Homo sapiens: one gene and its partner. The protein of the gene in region 2 interacts with the protein of the main gene of each other region in a pairwise test. Each region holds a gene or a part of one and is shown on either strand. Other genes may lie near its edges.

What was found. Proteins that work in one complex are often made in the same cells at the same time.
Region 1: the proteins of RASSF5 (region 2) and REL interact in binary tests that used the Homo sapiens proteins (3 or more experiments, as listed by UniProt).

The regions. Positions count from the first base shown.
Region 1 is NC_000002.12:60,926,570-60,932,143, reverse strand, and holds the end of REL (proto-oncogene c-Rel), read right to left. Parts: 3' UTR 532-5,574; downstream 1-531. UniProt on the Homo sapiens protein: Proto-oncogene that may play a role in differentiation and lymphopoiesis.
Region 2 is NC_000001.11:206,502,799-206,510,544, reverse strand, and holds the start of RASSF5 (ras association domain-containing protein 5), read right to left. Parts: upstream 3,015-7,746; 5' UTR 2,943-3,014; coding exon 2,486-2,942; intron 1-2,485. UniProt on the Homo sapiens protein: Potential tumor suppressor. Seems to be involved in lymphocyte adhesion by linking RAP1A activation upon T-cell receptor or chemokine stimulation to integrin activation.

The sequences.
Region 1 (5,574 bases), on a different chromosome or scaffold from region 2:
CATGCGCCTGTAGTCCCAGCTACTTGGGAGGCTGAGGCGGGAGGATCTCTTGAGCCCAGGAGGCAGAAGTTGCAGTGAGATGTGATTGTGCCACTGCACTCCAGCCTTGATGACAGAGTGAGACTCTGTCTCAAAAAAGAGAAGAGACACCCTAGATCTCCATCCTTCTCTCTCTCTACCATGTGAGGATGATGGGAAGGCAGCCCTCTGCAAGCCAGGAGGAGAGCCTCAGCAGAAACCGTCCTAGTACCCCTGATCTCGGACTTTCAGCCTCCAGGACTCTGAAAACAGATTTTTGTTGGTTAAGCCAGAAAAGGAAAAAGGAAAAAAATCTTGTAAAAAGGCACTTCAGTACTCTACAAAATTATTTCAAAGGACAGTTACAAATGCAACCATATTCAGCAACAGCATTCCATAAAAATGTCTAATGTTTCTAAGCAACTAAAACTACCTTTTCCTGTTAGGAAGATGCTATAAATATGAAGAAAATCTGATATTTTAAAAGTTAAATAGCAACAAAATTTCAGCAAGTGTTTTAGAATTTTTCCATTTATTATCAAGAAAAAAATCACTATATACAAAGATATTGCAAATGTAATAAAATATTCTGTATAATAAACAGCATTTTGGCATTTTAAAAACAACTGTATCTTGATACTAAACTTAACATTAAATAATTGAACAGTACCTGAGAACTTTAAAAAAATCACTTTCATCAGTGCCTCCAAATTCATTTCAGTCATTAAGCATCTACAAATACTCAGTCAAAAAAAATAGGATTTTGGTATTCTGCTGGGATCTACATTCATCACAGCCAAAGGTATTTTAAGTACATACTTTTAAAACAGAAATCACTTCTAAAGGGTTCACCTGGTCAAAAACCATACATTTAAGAACGCTGGTTACCCAAAAGCTTTGTGTTTTCCTTGCCACATCATCTTAAAGCTACTTGAACTGTGAGACAGTGACCAACATTATTAGCTAATTACCCAGTAAAAATTGAGTGTATCACCAATGAAGTCTCATTAAATTCAGTTCCACAAATGGATCCTCAAATATTCCAACCTTATCTATATTTTATTACATCTTATGGAAAACTATGTTTGATTAGATAATAAAGTTTAAGAGGAAAAATGGGCAAGATGAATGTTTGATACTTTTACCAAAAATTTATATTTCATTTACTTGCTGATTTCCCTGAAAACTCAATTTGTTGAAGAAGCAACATGCTGTACTAATTACTGTGTATTACTATTCACACACAAGTGTTTAATGAATTTTACTTGTAATTCTTTAAATTTTTGAAAGTCCAATAGTAAACTAAAGTTGTGGAAACAACTGATAAGAATATTAGAGGATAATAAATTCTACATCTTTAAATAGGTAAGTACTAGCTGGTGGTATTTTCCTAAAGCCACAGACATTTAGAATAAATAGAGTGATTACTTTTGAAAACTTTGATCTGTATTTTGTTTATTAATAGGGCATGAGTGGTTTTGTCTGTGCTTTTTGCATGCATGAAAAACATTACAGACATGATTACTTTCAAGATTCAATCCTACCCACTGTTAACTTTGTGCTTAACTAAACTCTGCTAAGATGTATTAGTTAAAATATTAATTTGACTACGTCTTAGGCAAAAAAAAGGCATAAAACTAGATACAGACAACCCATACATTTATCTCTGATTAGTCACCTATTTCTGGGCTTATAATAAATGATAAGCCAAAAGAAGGCTCTCCAAAGCTGGGCAATAACTAGTTAATGCTAATGAGAAGTCCATCTCAGGTTTCTTACTAAAGAACCTAATCCATAATGATTTTTCTCACTCTGCTGTGTATTAGATAACTAGAAGGAGTATCTAAATTAAAGATTAATCCGGGACATAGGATATACAGATATTGGTTTATTAACAATATTTGATTCGCACTATATAATTTACAGTGTTTCTTCTTATGTACCATTTTATTTAGTACAACACAACCTGTTAGGTAGCAGGCTGGGTATTACCTGAGTAAAAAGTCCCTATTCTTTCCATTTCTCCATGCTATTTAAAAGCATGTGGTGATCCTTCAATAAATTAAAGATATAACAAATTATTTGATGCCATTAGGCGGCCTGGATCACCAATTCTAAGTCTTTTTTTTTTTTGAGACAGGGTCTTGCCCAGGCTGGAGTGCAGTGGCGTAATCACTGCTCACTACAGACTCAACCTCCTGGGTTCAAGGGATCCTCCCACCTCAGCCTCCCTAATAGCTGGGACCACAGGCACATGTCACCATGCCTGGCTTTCTTTTTCTTATTTATTTATTTATTTATTTTTTATTATACTTTAAGCTTTAGGGTACATGTGCACATTGTGCAGGTTACTTACATATGTATACATGTGCCATGCTGGTGCACTGCACCCACTAACTCGTCATCTAGCATTAGGTATATCTCCCAATGCTATCCCTCCCCCCTCCCCCCACCCCACAACAGTCCCCAGTGTGATATTCCCCTTCCTGTGTCCATGTGTTCTCATTGTTCAATTCCCACCTATGAGTGAGAATATGTGGTGTTTGGTTTCTTGTTCTTGCGATAGTTTACTGAGAATGATGTTTTCCAATTTCATCCATGTCCCTACAAAGGACATGAATTCATCATTTTTTATGGCTGCATAGTATTCCATGGTGTATATGTGCCACATTTTCTTAATCCAGTCTATCATTGTTGGACATTTGGGTTGGTTCCAAGTCTTTGCTATTGTGAATAATGCCGCAATAAACATACGTGTGCATGTGTCTTTATAGCAGCATGATTTATAGTCCTTTGGGTATATACCCAGTAATGGGATGGCTGGGTCAAACGGTATTTCCAGTTCTACATCCCTGAGGAATCGCCACACTGACTTCCACAATGGTTGAACTAGTTTACAGTCCCACCAACAGTGTAAAAGTGTTCCTATTTCTCCACATCCTCTCCAGCACCTGTTGTCTCCTGACTTTTTAATGATTGCCATTCTAACTGGTGTGAGATGGTATCTCATTGTGGTTTTGATTTGCATTTCTCTGATGGCCAGTCATGATGAGCATTTTTTCATGTGTTTTTTGGCTGCATAAATGTCTTCTTTTGAGAAGTGTCTGTTCATGTCCTTCGCCCACTTTTTGATGGGGTTGTTTTTTTCTTGTAAATTTGTTTGAGTTCATTGTAGATTCTGGATATTAGCCCTTTGTCAGATAAGTAGGTTGCGAAAATTTTCTCCCATTTTGTAGGTTGCCTGTTCACTCTGATGGTAGTTTCTTTTGCTGTGCAGCAGCTCTTTAGTTTAATTAGATCCCATTTGTCAATTTTGGCTTTTGTTGCCATTGCTTTTGGTGTTTTAGACATGAAGTCCTTGCCCATGCCTATGTCCTGAATGGTAATGCCTAGGTTTTCTTCTAGGGTTTTTATGGTTTTAGGTCTAACGTTTAAGTCTTTAATCCATCTTGAATTGATTTTTGTATAAGGTGTAAGGAAGGGATCCAGTTTCAGCTTTCTACATATGGCTAGCCAGTTTTCCCAGCACCATTTATTAAATAGGGAATCCTTTCCCCATTGCTTGTTTTTCTCAGGTTTGTCAAAGATCAGATAGTTGTAGATATGCGGCGTTATTTCTGAGGGCTCTGTTCTGTTCCAGTGATCTATATCTCTGTTTTGGTACCAGTACCATGCTGTTTTGGTTACTGTAGCCTTGTAGTATAGTTTGAAGTCAGGTAGTGTGATGCCTCCAGCTTTGTTCTTTTGGCTTAGGATTGACTTGGCGATATGGGCTCTTTTTTGGTTCCATATGAACTTTAAAGTAGTTTTTTCCAATTCTGTGAAGAAAGGCATTGGTAGCTTGATGGGGATGGCACTGAATCTGTAAATTACCTTGGGCAGTATGGCCATTTTCACGATATTGATTCTTCCTACCCATGAGCATGGAATGTTCTTCCATTTGGTTGTATCCTCTTTTTTTTTTTTTTTTTGCAGAGACAGGTTTTCCTTATATTACCCAGGCTAGTCTTGAACTCCTGGGCTCAAGCAATCCCCCTACCTCGGCCTCCCAAAGTGCTGGGATTACAGGCGTGATCCATCCACCATGCCAGTGCCCTGCTCCATGTCTCTCTTAACATGGAAACCATCATGAGTTTTCCTGAAGTATTAGGTTAGACGTTGACAACCCAGCTGTTTCTGTTCACTATGGTTGTGAGAAGCCCAGTTATTTAAAAGGCCATTAAGATTGAAAATAGATTTAGAGGTGTAGGTACAGACTGGGAAGGGGCATGAAGGAAATTTCAGGGGTGCTGGAAATGTCCTAAACATGGTGGTGACATGGGTGTTAACATACATAAAAATTAATTAAGCTGTACATTTAAAATTAGTCCCCTTTATGCATTTTACTCTACATGTGTTATCCTTGCAAAGAAAAAGACTGACATCTTTGAGAGCAAGAGTTTTTGTCTTATTCACCTCTGTATAATTTCCAACATCGTGCTTTGCACATTGGACATTCAAAAAATGTTATACAAGATTGACTGCATCAATACTGGAGTGTTGTGTGAGGGTTAGGTGCTGAGGCTGAGAAGTGTATGAGGGAGACCTGAGATTAAACCTGCCACATAAAGTGGAGAGAAGTAGCAAGGTCAGGGCTATGAAATAATCCCAAAAACTTTAGAATTTCTACATAATACAGTTGACACTACTATTCTCAATAGAGCTGCTTTCAGTCTCAAAGGGCTGTGGTATGTGTGCGTGTGTGTGTGGTAAAAAAGGGAAGCAGCAGGTCAAGGAAGAGAAGTGTTATTTCACAAGACTTAAGTAATCTTGTCATTGCTGCTTTTCCTGCCAGAAAATCATTACCTTTCCCTTTAAAAATCATTTCCATATACATTTTACTAACTCCCATGTCAATTTCACCCTTCCTTTTCTAATAATAGCTACTATTTATTCAGCACCAACTAGTATACTAGGGACTATGCTGGGTGCTGGAGTCCCAATGACGAAAGAGACAAACACTTAAATAAGAGGATGTCCGTAATACAGGCATGTACAAAGCTTCACCTCAAGTAAGGAGGCAGGACCAACCTTCATACAGAAGCCCAGCCTTCAAGGATGAGTGTTCTAGTTCCAGAAGAGCAGAGGCAGAGTGGGTAACATGCTAAAGGTATGGAGGCCTGAGAGAATTGTTTTTTTTCAAGGAATGCTAGCTATGTAATAAGGAATAGGGAGAACATGGTATTTTAACTGGAACATATGGAAAAGATTATTACTAGGGAAAAAAGAATGAAGGCCTTTACTAAGAAGGCAGCAGGAATTAAGAAGGGACATATTCAAGAGGAGACAAGCTCAAAAGGACTTGATGATTAAGTATGAGTGTGATGGAGAAAAAGAATACAATACTTTGAGGTTCCTAGTAAGTATCTTGGGTGGCGTGGTAAATGGTAATGCCATTATGGAAGGTAAAGAAGAGAGCGAGCCAGTTTATCAGGACATTCAGGTAGCATGAAAGAAAACTGAACCTGTGGGCTCTGATAAGATCATCGGAGGGCGGGTAGGGGGAAATAGCACCAA
Region 2 (7,746 bases):
AGTTGTTACAGCTGTTAGATGGGAGGGGACAATAACAATCATATCGAATTAAACATTCGTATTGCATTTTGCTAGGCCCTGTTCTGAGTGCCTTATGTATATTAATCCATTTAATTCTCAGATTAACATGATGAAGTAGGTAATATCATTATCCTATTTTTTTTAAACAAAGAAGCAGAACACAGAGATGTCCAGGACTCACGTGGGGACTAAGTGGTAGTCAGGATTCAAACCCAGGGCTCTGGTTCCAGTCTGTACTCTTAACTACTGCATAGTATGATTTTTTTTAAAGTCCTATTTCTGACACTTGCTTTTCAAAATGAAGATAAAACAAAGCAACCTCACCATGGAATCAGACCTTCAACTTAAAGAAAGATGCTCAGCGAGTTTGGCCTGCTGTGTCTCCACCTGCCAGCCCTCATCTGCACATCAGAACATTTCTCAACTTTTGCCATCCAGCCATAGGTTCACAATTAGTTAAATATTAATCATGACAAACAGAGACTCCTTTCTGTAGCCCCTCGATTCCAGTTTTGCTTTCTCTCCAGTGTTCAGACATCGTTAGCATTAAACCAACTCTGTGGGGGACCATGAGCGCCCAGGAAAGTAAAAAGACCTCACCAAGTCACACACAAAGTCAGAGGTACTGCCCGGGGGCCTAGATCTTCCTGCCACTAGAAACGACGTATGACTTAATCAAAGGAGATCGACAATTCTGATGTGACGTAAGGATCAATTCATTTAGTCATGGAGTATCACACACAGGCACACGCAAATACACACAAACGCACCATTATCACCAAACCAAAAAAAAAAAAGAAAATCACAAAACTATGTGCAAAATCTTCAACAAGTGATACAGTCCCCCAAAGTCTAACTACAAACTAGAATGCCAACGAAGCAGATTTCCTGGGATTCCAGCTATGATAAAACCCATTTCAGTGAGGCTCCTGCCTCTCTCCCTGTGTGTAGGGTTGTTGGATGCAGTAAGGGAATCTTGAAAGTGCAAAAGCTGCCAACACATCCAAGGATAAGTTGCATTTGATTCTACTGTAGTCAAAGGCATTTACCAAGGGACAGCAGCCCCTCTACCCACAACATGTACCTCTACAAACCTTTACTCCTTCCTTCTTAATTAGCACCTGAACTGGGGGTTCTGGTGGAGGAAAGAGCAGCACCCACTTGCCCTTCCAATCTTTCCCTTCCACTTGACCCAGGCTTAGTGTCTGAGTTCTATTTCCCTGCAGCCAGCTGCAGCGGGCAGCACATTGAACAGCCTCCGCTGCAGACTGCAGGCAGAAAAAGGGTAGGGTTTTCCTGATGTGGAAATCACTGCTGCTGTCCAACGCTGCAGTTGGATGGGAGACGTGAGGCTGCTGCCATAGGGGAAGGGCCTTTGCTGAAAGATGCAAACCACAATCCATTTCCAGAGATGCTTGTTAGAGGCTGTGCCATTGTCTGTGCTTTGGGCTTCAGATATTTGAAATATCCATGTAAACACATGAACACATGGCTGTGGATATCCTCTGATAAACACGCAAGAGCAAATGCCGGGGTGGGGGTGGAGGGTGGACACCTATTAAAGGCATACACACCCCTAACTGTAGGAGGAGAAAAATAATAAACCCCCAAGGAGACTGAAGATTGGCTCAGAAAATCTATACACTGGGGGCCCAGTGTTTTCTGGCTTTGAGAAGCGCCTGGCTCAGGAGGTGACTGGAGGGGCCTGAGGGCTGTGGAGAGGAAGGGACCCTGTCAGGAGCTGAGTAATGTTAGAGCATGACGACTAGGGCAGGAACCCAGGAGGAGGAAGGGGAGGAGGCAGGGCACAGCCAAACATTGGAGCAGAGTCCAAAGGTTTGAGGGGCCAGAGGTGAAAGGCAGGAGGGGGCACGGGTTCAGGGTGACTTCAGGCTCTCTTCAGCCTCACAGCCTGCCTTTATCCAAAATCTAACAAGGTCTCCTCCCTGTCCCAATACGTCCCCCTGGAGGAGAGGTCTGAGCCTGTACCATGGGCGGACAAACAAGCGTTTTGTCAGTAACCCTAATAAGCAAGGGTCAAACGGTCATCTCAACAGCAGTCTCACAACCCACTCCCAAGAACTCACAACAAAACCATGAGGGTGCACAGGGAGATGACAGAGGCCGCCGAGGCCATCACCCACCCACCCCCCACAACCTGTGTGCGAGTGTGTGTGTGTGTGTGTGTGTGTGTGTGTGTGGAGGGCCAAGGCACGCACCTGTCAGGAGACAGGTATCTGTTAACTACCGCATAACCATACCTAGGTAGTGGGCAGGCACTAAAGGATACCGGGCAGGGAACTAAGGAGCGGACTGTCCCCAGGGGTTGTTATCTCCTTATGTTCGGGGCTCCCCTGGAGCCAAAGAGTGTAATGGCCCCTCTCTCCCTGCCCCAGGGCCCTCCCAGTCCTTCGCCCCCAGACTGCGGTCTCCCCGCACGCCCCTCCCCTGCCTTCACACTTACTAGTGCAGCGCAGCGCCTGCCGCAGCACCTCTCGTCCGCACAGGTCACACCAGCCGGGGCCGCCCGGCAGCACCAACTCGGCGAAGCAGTGCCCCTCGCCTCGCTCCGCCGGGACTCTGGGATCCTGCGGCTGCTCGAAGATGCTCCGCACGTCGCGGGGTCGGGGCGCTCCAGGCCGCCGCCGCAGTCTCTGCTGCAGACCAGGCCGGAGCGGGCGAGCGGGTCGGGAGGCCCGGGGCGGGGGCTCCAGGTTCCCCCGGGCAGCCCTCCGGGCGCTGCGCCCCTCGCGCGCCCCGGGCGCAGTGGAGAGGGGCGCCGGGACACAGAGGCGCGAGGACCGGTCGGGGGGCGGCGGCGGTAGCTCGGGGCCGCTCAGGCTCTGTAGATAGCGCGGCGGCTCGGGGTCCAATAGTAGCGGGTACGGGCGCTGCCCGATGGCCGGGGACGCCATGGCCATGCCCGGCTAGTGGCGGCAGCTTTGGCAGCGGCGGCTTTGGCGACTGCGCTACTCCCGAGCCAGCCCCGAGAGAAGGGGCCGCCCCACACCAGCGCGCCTTTAAAGGAACCGCAGCCTGCTGGGCGGGGCGGGGGCGGGGAGAGTCGGAGTGGCAGGAAGGACGACCCAAGAGAACCGCCGACGGACCGAAGGGGGTAGGGTCCGTGCCAGGCGACGTCTGCGCGAGTGTGGATTTGGGGGCGTCTTCACCTGGAGCAGCTGCAGGATTCCGCAGAGGAGCGCCTCTGTACAGTACAGCTCAGAGGGCGCATTTCTGCGGGGGGCCCTAGGCCTTCAGCCCTGCCTCTTTCCCTTGCCAATCACTTTCCCCAACACCAGGTTCACCCCCGACCCGCACCCTCACGCGCCCCGGGAGGGAGCAGGTCGGAGGGAAAAGCTTGGGAACTGGCTCGATGGGGTCTGAGTAGGGCCCCTCCGTCTAGGCGTCCGCTCGCCACTCTCCCGCTGATGGTGCCGACAGGAGGGCCGTGCTCCTTGGCCCTTCCTCTCTCCGGCTTGTCGCCGCCCGCCGCCCCCTCTAGAGCGGAGCTCGACGCGGGTCCGGAATGCCCCGCGCGCGCTCCCGCAGCCGCGCTTTGTCCCGTGGGTGACCGCCGGATGCCTCCAAGGGCTGGCAGAGCTGTCCGCGTGCGACTTTCGCTCTGGTTGGATTTCCCCTTCCTTCGCAGCCCTGCCGGGTAGGGTATTCCTCTTTCCTGGAAGACTGGTGGGGGGTGGAGGGGAGTTGGGGGGGCTCCATTGAGAGAACGCTCCCTCGCCCCAAGGGTTGGGGGAGCTTTTCTTCCTTAGCCAACCCTCCGTTCCCCAGAGCTGCTCTAGTAATTACTGTGGAGATACCAGTTCCCCTAAATGCCCTAAGTGGAACCTGGTATGGATGGTTCACTCATGGGACCCAAAGAGAGATCTCCTTTCTCCCGGCACTTTCCCCCGTGAAGGCTTGCTTCAAGCCTTCATGGACCCTTGTCTGGTTTAACGCTCTGCGGTCACCATCTTGAAAGTCTTACTTTTTGAACAAAGGGCCAGGCGTTTTCTTTTTGCACTGGTTCCCACAAATTATGTAGTTGTTCCTGACAGGCACCTTTGCCCATGGAAACAGGCCCATCTTATGGATAAGGAGGACTCCTGGATCTCTGAACCTGGGCCTGGGCCCTGGCCCTCTCTAGCCCCAGTATTGTTAACTGTACATTGGGCTGGAGGTGGGGAGACAGGTGGTTGTTAACGTGGCACTCTCCAGCTCCGTCATTATGACTCAGTGATCACAGCTTTCCTCTTAAAACACAGGTTCGGTTTGGTCCGTCTAGCGGTGGTCATTTTTTAGAAGAATAGTCTAAATTCTTCTGGACCTGGTCTCTCCCTTCTCTTCCCAGGCCAGAGATGGGTCTCCCCCTAGTGCTTCGTAGGGGAATCTTCACTTTTGCTTTTTGTTTTTCCCTTGGAGGTAATTTTTAGGTAATTCCTAAGATTTCCAGAGTCCAGTGGCCAGGGAATTCCCAGCCAGCTTTGCTCCATGGCTTCTCCCTCACGGTAATCATAGTCCTCTGCCTCCCAAATCTGTAGCAGAAGAGAGGTTCCTGGGGCTCTGGGGGCTCACCAGAGGCGGGAGCTCACCCTATGAGGTGGTTTCTGAGGAATGACCCATGGGACAGTCAACCCCACAGTGCTACCAAACAGAGGAGCTCCGATGAGGGGTGTAAGCCACAGGCCACCGCCTCTGCCCCACCCCTCCTCTACCTTTCCTCTTCCCTCTCCTAACCTTGCTTTTGCTACATCAGTGGTTTTCAAACCTTGGTATGCATCACAGTCATCTGGAGGGCTTGTTAAGATTATTGGGCTTCATCCCCAAAGTTTCAGAATCTATAGGTCTGGGGCTGGGGTTTGAGATGGCTCATTTTGAGCAAGTTCCCAGGTGTTGATGCTATTGATCCAGGGACCCAACTTGGAAAACCATTGCTCTAGGTCTGAGGTGGTGATTCTGAGAATGGGCTTCTCTGTTCCTTCTCCCCAGGACAAGTGTACTTCAGTGGACCTGACAGATAAAAGCCCAATGAGGGCTATTCCTGAATACTTTCTGCTGAAGGTGTAAAAGGGAAAATACAATTTGCCCTTGTGGTCTCTTATTTTAATCTCCCACTTTTTCTGCAAGCAGTTCTCTTGGGGTTGTTGCAGAAATCTGTATTCCATATAAATATTTGCTGTGTCCACACTCTGTTACCCATCTCCACACACTTGAGACTCATCCCCTTCCTGGAGTGCAGTGGGTGGGTGAGGTCCTGGGCATGGAAACAGCTTGAGCTCTGAGTGACAGCCTGGTGGGGCAAGAAGCAGCAGGGATCTGACAACAAGTGCATCCCTGGAAGATCGGCTTTGAAAAGCCATTTGTGAAATAATTGCTAACAGTCTCCATCTCTGTCCTTCCCTGCAGCCTCAAAGCATGGTTTGGGCAGCCCAGCCCAGATTTCCTGGATAGAGAGACTCATGAGGAGGAGCGTCATCTCTGGCCACGGGAAACTGAGGGCTATCTGAAACCATCAGGCATAAAACTCTTCCCCAGTTGTCTGGGCTGTACAGAAAAATGCTCTAGTTTTTGTTTTCCTCCTGCAGCTCTGATTTGGTGGAGTGGCAGTGGCTGCTCTTAGCATGAATGTGGGAGGAGATTGTGCAGGGCCAGAGCCCTATATTTGGCTTCTGGGGTGGGAAAAGAGATGAAAATGGAGATATTAATCATATAACTCCATGTAACCAATCAAAAAATTTATCATAAAGTTTATCTTAAAGTTCATCTCCTTGAGCCAAGAAATTAGAGTTGGGGCGGGCAGTTGCCCTTCTTAACCTCAATGTGAGGCTCCCTGGCTGGGGCATGTCTCCTCTGATGCCAGTTTTCCCAGCCCAGTCCCCTTCTTCCTTGAAATAGCATTTCCCCACCAACCCACGACACACACATAGACTTCTTTCTTGCTCCCATGCACACACACACACACACACACACACACACACACCCCACATGAACAGCAGAGTATTCCTTCTTCCCCAGGGAAGAAGTGCTAAAGAAACTCTAGTCTCATTATAAGCTCAGGACATTGCTGGGGTAGTGTCAGATGCCTGGACTTTAACATTTTTTTTGATCTGTCTGGTCATCCAGGCTACAAGGGTAAGACCGCAGCATCCGCTGAAACACCTCCACTGGGAGATCTTTCCCCTTGTTAGTAGATCCTCTTGGCTCAGACCCATTGACTTTTTTCTGTTTGTGACTCACTCCCAGCAGAGTGGGTGTGCTGCTTTTATTTTTGACCAAGGGGAAGGATTATGACAGTGAGTTTAGAGTGTGTGGTCAGGGTGTGAGATCACTTCAGAGGTGGTCCCAGAGCGTGCTGGTTTTCCCATTGGGTGAGTTGTTTAACTGCTGCCGCCCAGCCTCCCTCCCCAAGTTCCCTAGTAAGAAGGAAAACGGAAGGACAGAACATGGCCTGACTTCCTGAAGGGGACATTTTTGGTTTTGTTTGACTTTGAGGCGTCTGAAGTCGCCTGAAATCCCCGAAGCTTTCAGGGAACTCCCAGGGATTCTGACAGTTGCACAACTGTCTACATGGAATCACTGTAAGAGTCAGGACAAGTTAGGTTATGCTGTAGTAATAAGCTCCACAGCTGAGTGCCCTGAAATAACAGACTCCTTTCTCGCTCACATTACATGCCTTTTGCAGGTTGGCAGGTGCTCTCTTCTCATCAGACTCACCATGTCTAATATTGCCAGTCACTGTGCCAAAGGGAGATTGAGAGAGCCTGGAGGATCCCACATCAGCATTTAAAAGCTCCAGTCACTTTTGCTCACAGCTTATTGGCCAGAACTAGTCATATGACCCCACTCTACAAACAGGAGCAGATGTAAAATTCTACCTTGTGCTCAGAAGGGGAAAGGGCTGGAAATATTTGGCAATCAGCGCTAATGGCCAGTGCAATCTTCAAGGGCATAGAGCAGTTATTCATTCATTTAATGAGTAATTCTCTGATATCCACTATGTATCAAGCACTGTTCTAGGCACTAAAGGTACAACAGTGAAATGGATATGTTCATGAAGCTTGCATTTAGTGAAAGAGCCAGACAATAAACAGACACAAGAGTAATATGATATCAGGTTGTAAGCACTTTGATGAAAAATCAAGCACATTAAGGGGATGAAGGTGATAGAGGCTACTCTATTAGATTGAGTAGTCAGGAAAGACCTTTCTGAGGAGCAGACATTTAAGCAGATCTGAATGAAGCAAGCCCTTTGTCAATCTGGACAAGAGTGTCCCAGACTAAGAGAACAACAGGCACAACAGCCCCAAAAACTTTTCAAGCTTTATGAACCTGAGTTTGTTCAAAATGCCTATTCTGGGACCTGACCCTCTGATTCAGTATGTCTGGATTTTGGCCGGGATTTTGCAAGAGACTTTGATTCAGATGGCTCACAGACTACACTTTAAAAATGGGGTTACAGCAGTAAATAGTTAAAATGGTGTGACCCCCTCCACAGACATTTGGAAAAAAATGCCCTTATCTTGGTTAGCTATGAAACACAGGTCTCCAGTGCTGCTTCCTTTCCTTCTTGGGCAGCATGTTGCATGCAGAGCTCAGCTTTCCAAAGAAGTGAGTGCTGCTTGCAATGTGTGATGGGGGTCAGTAATATTTTACATTACTAGACTGAGAGCAGGGACCATGACAAAATGTTGTTGGAGGATCAAAATGTGTTTGTGAGAGAAATCCCTT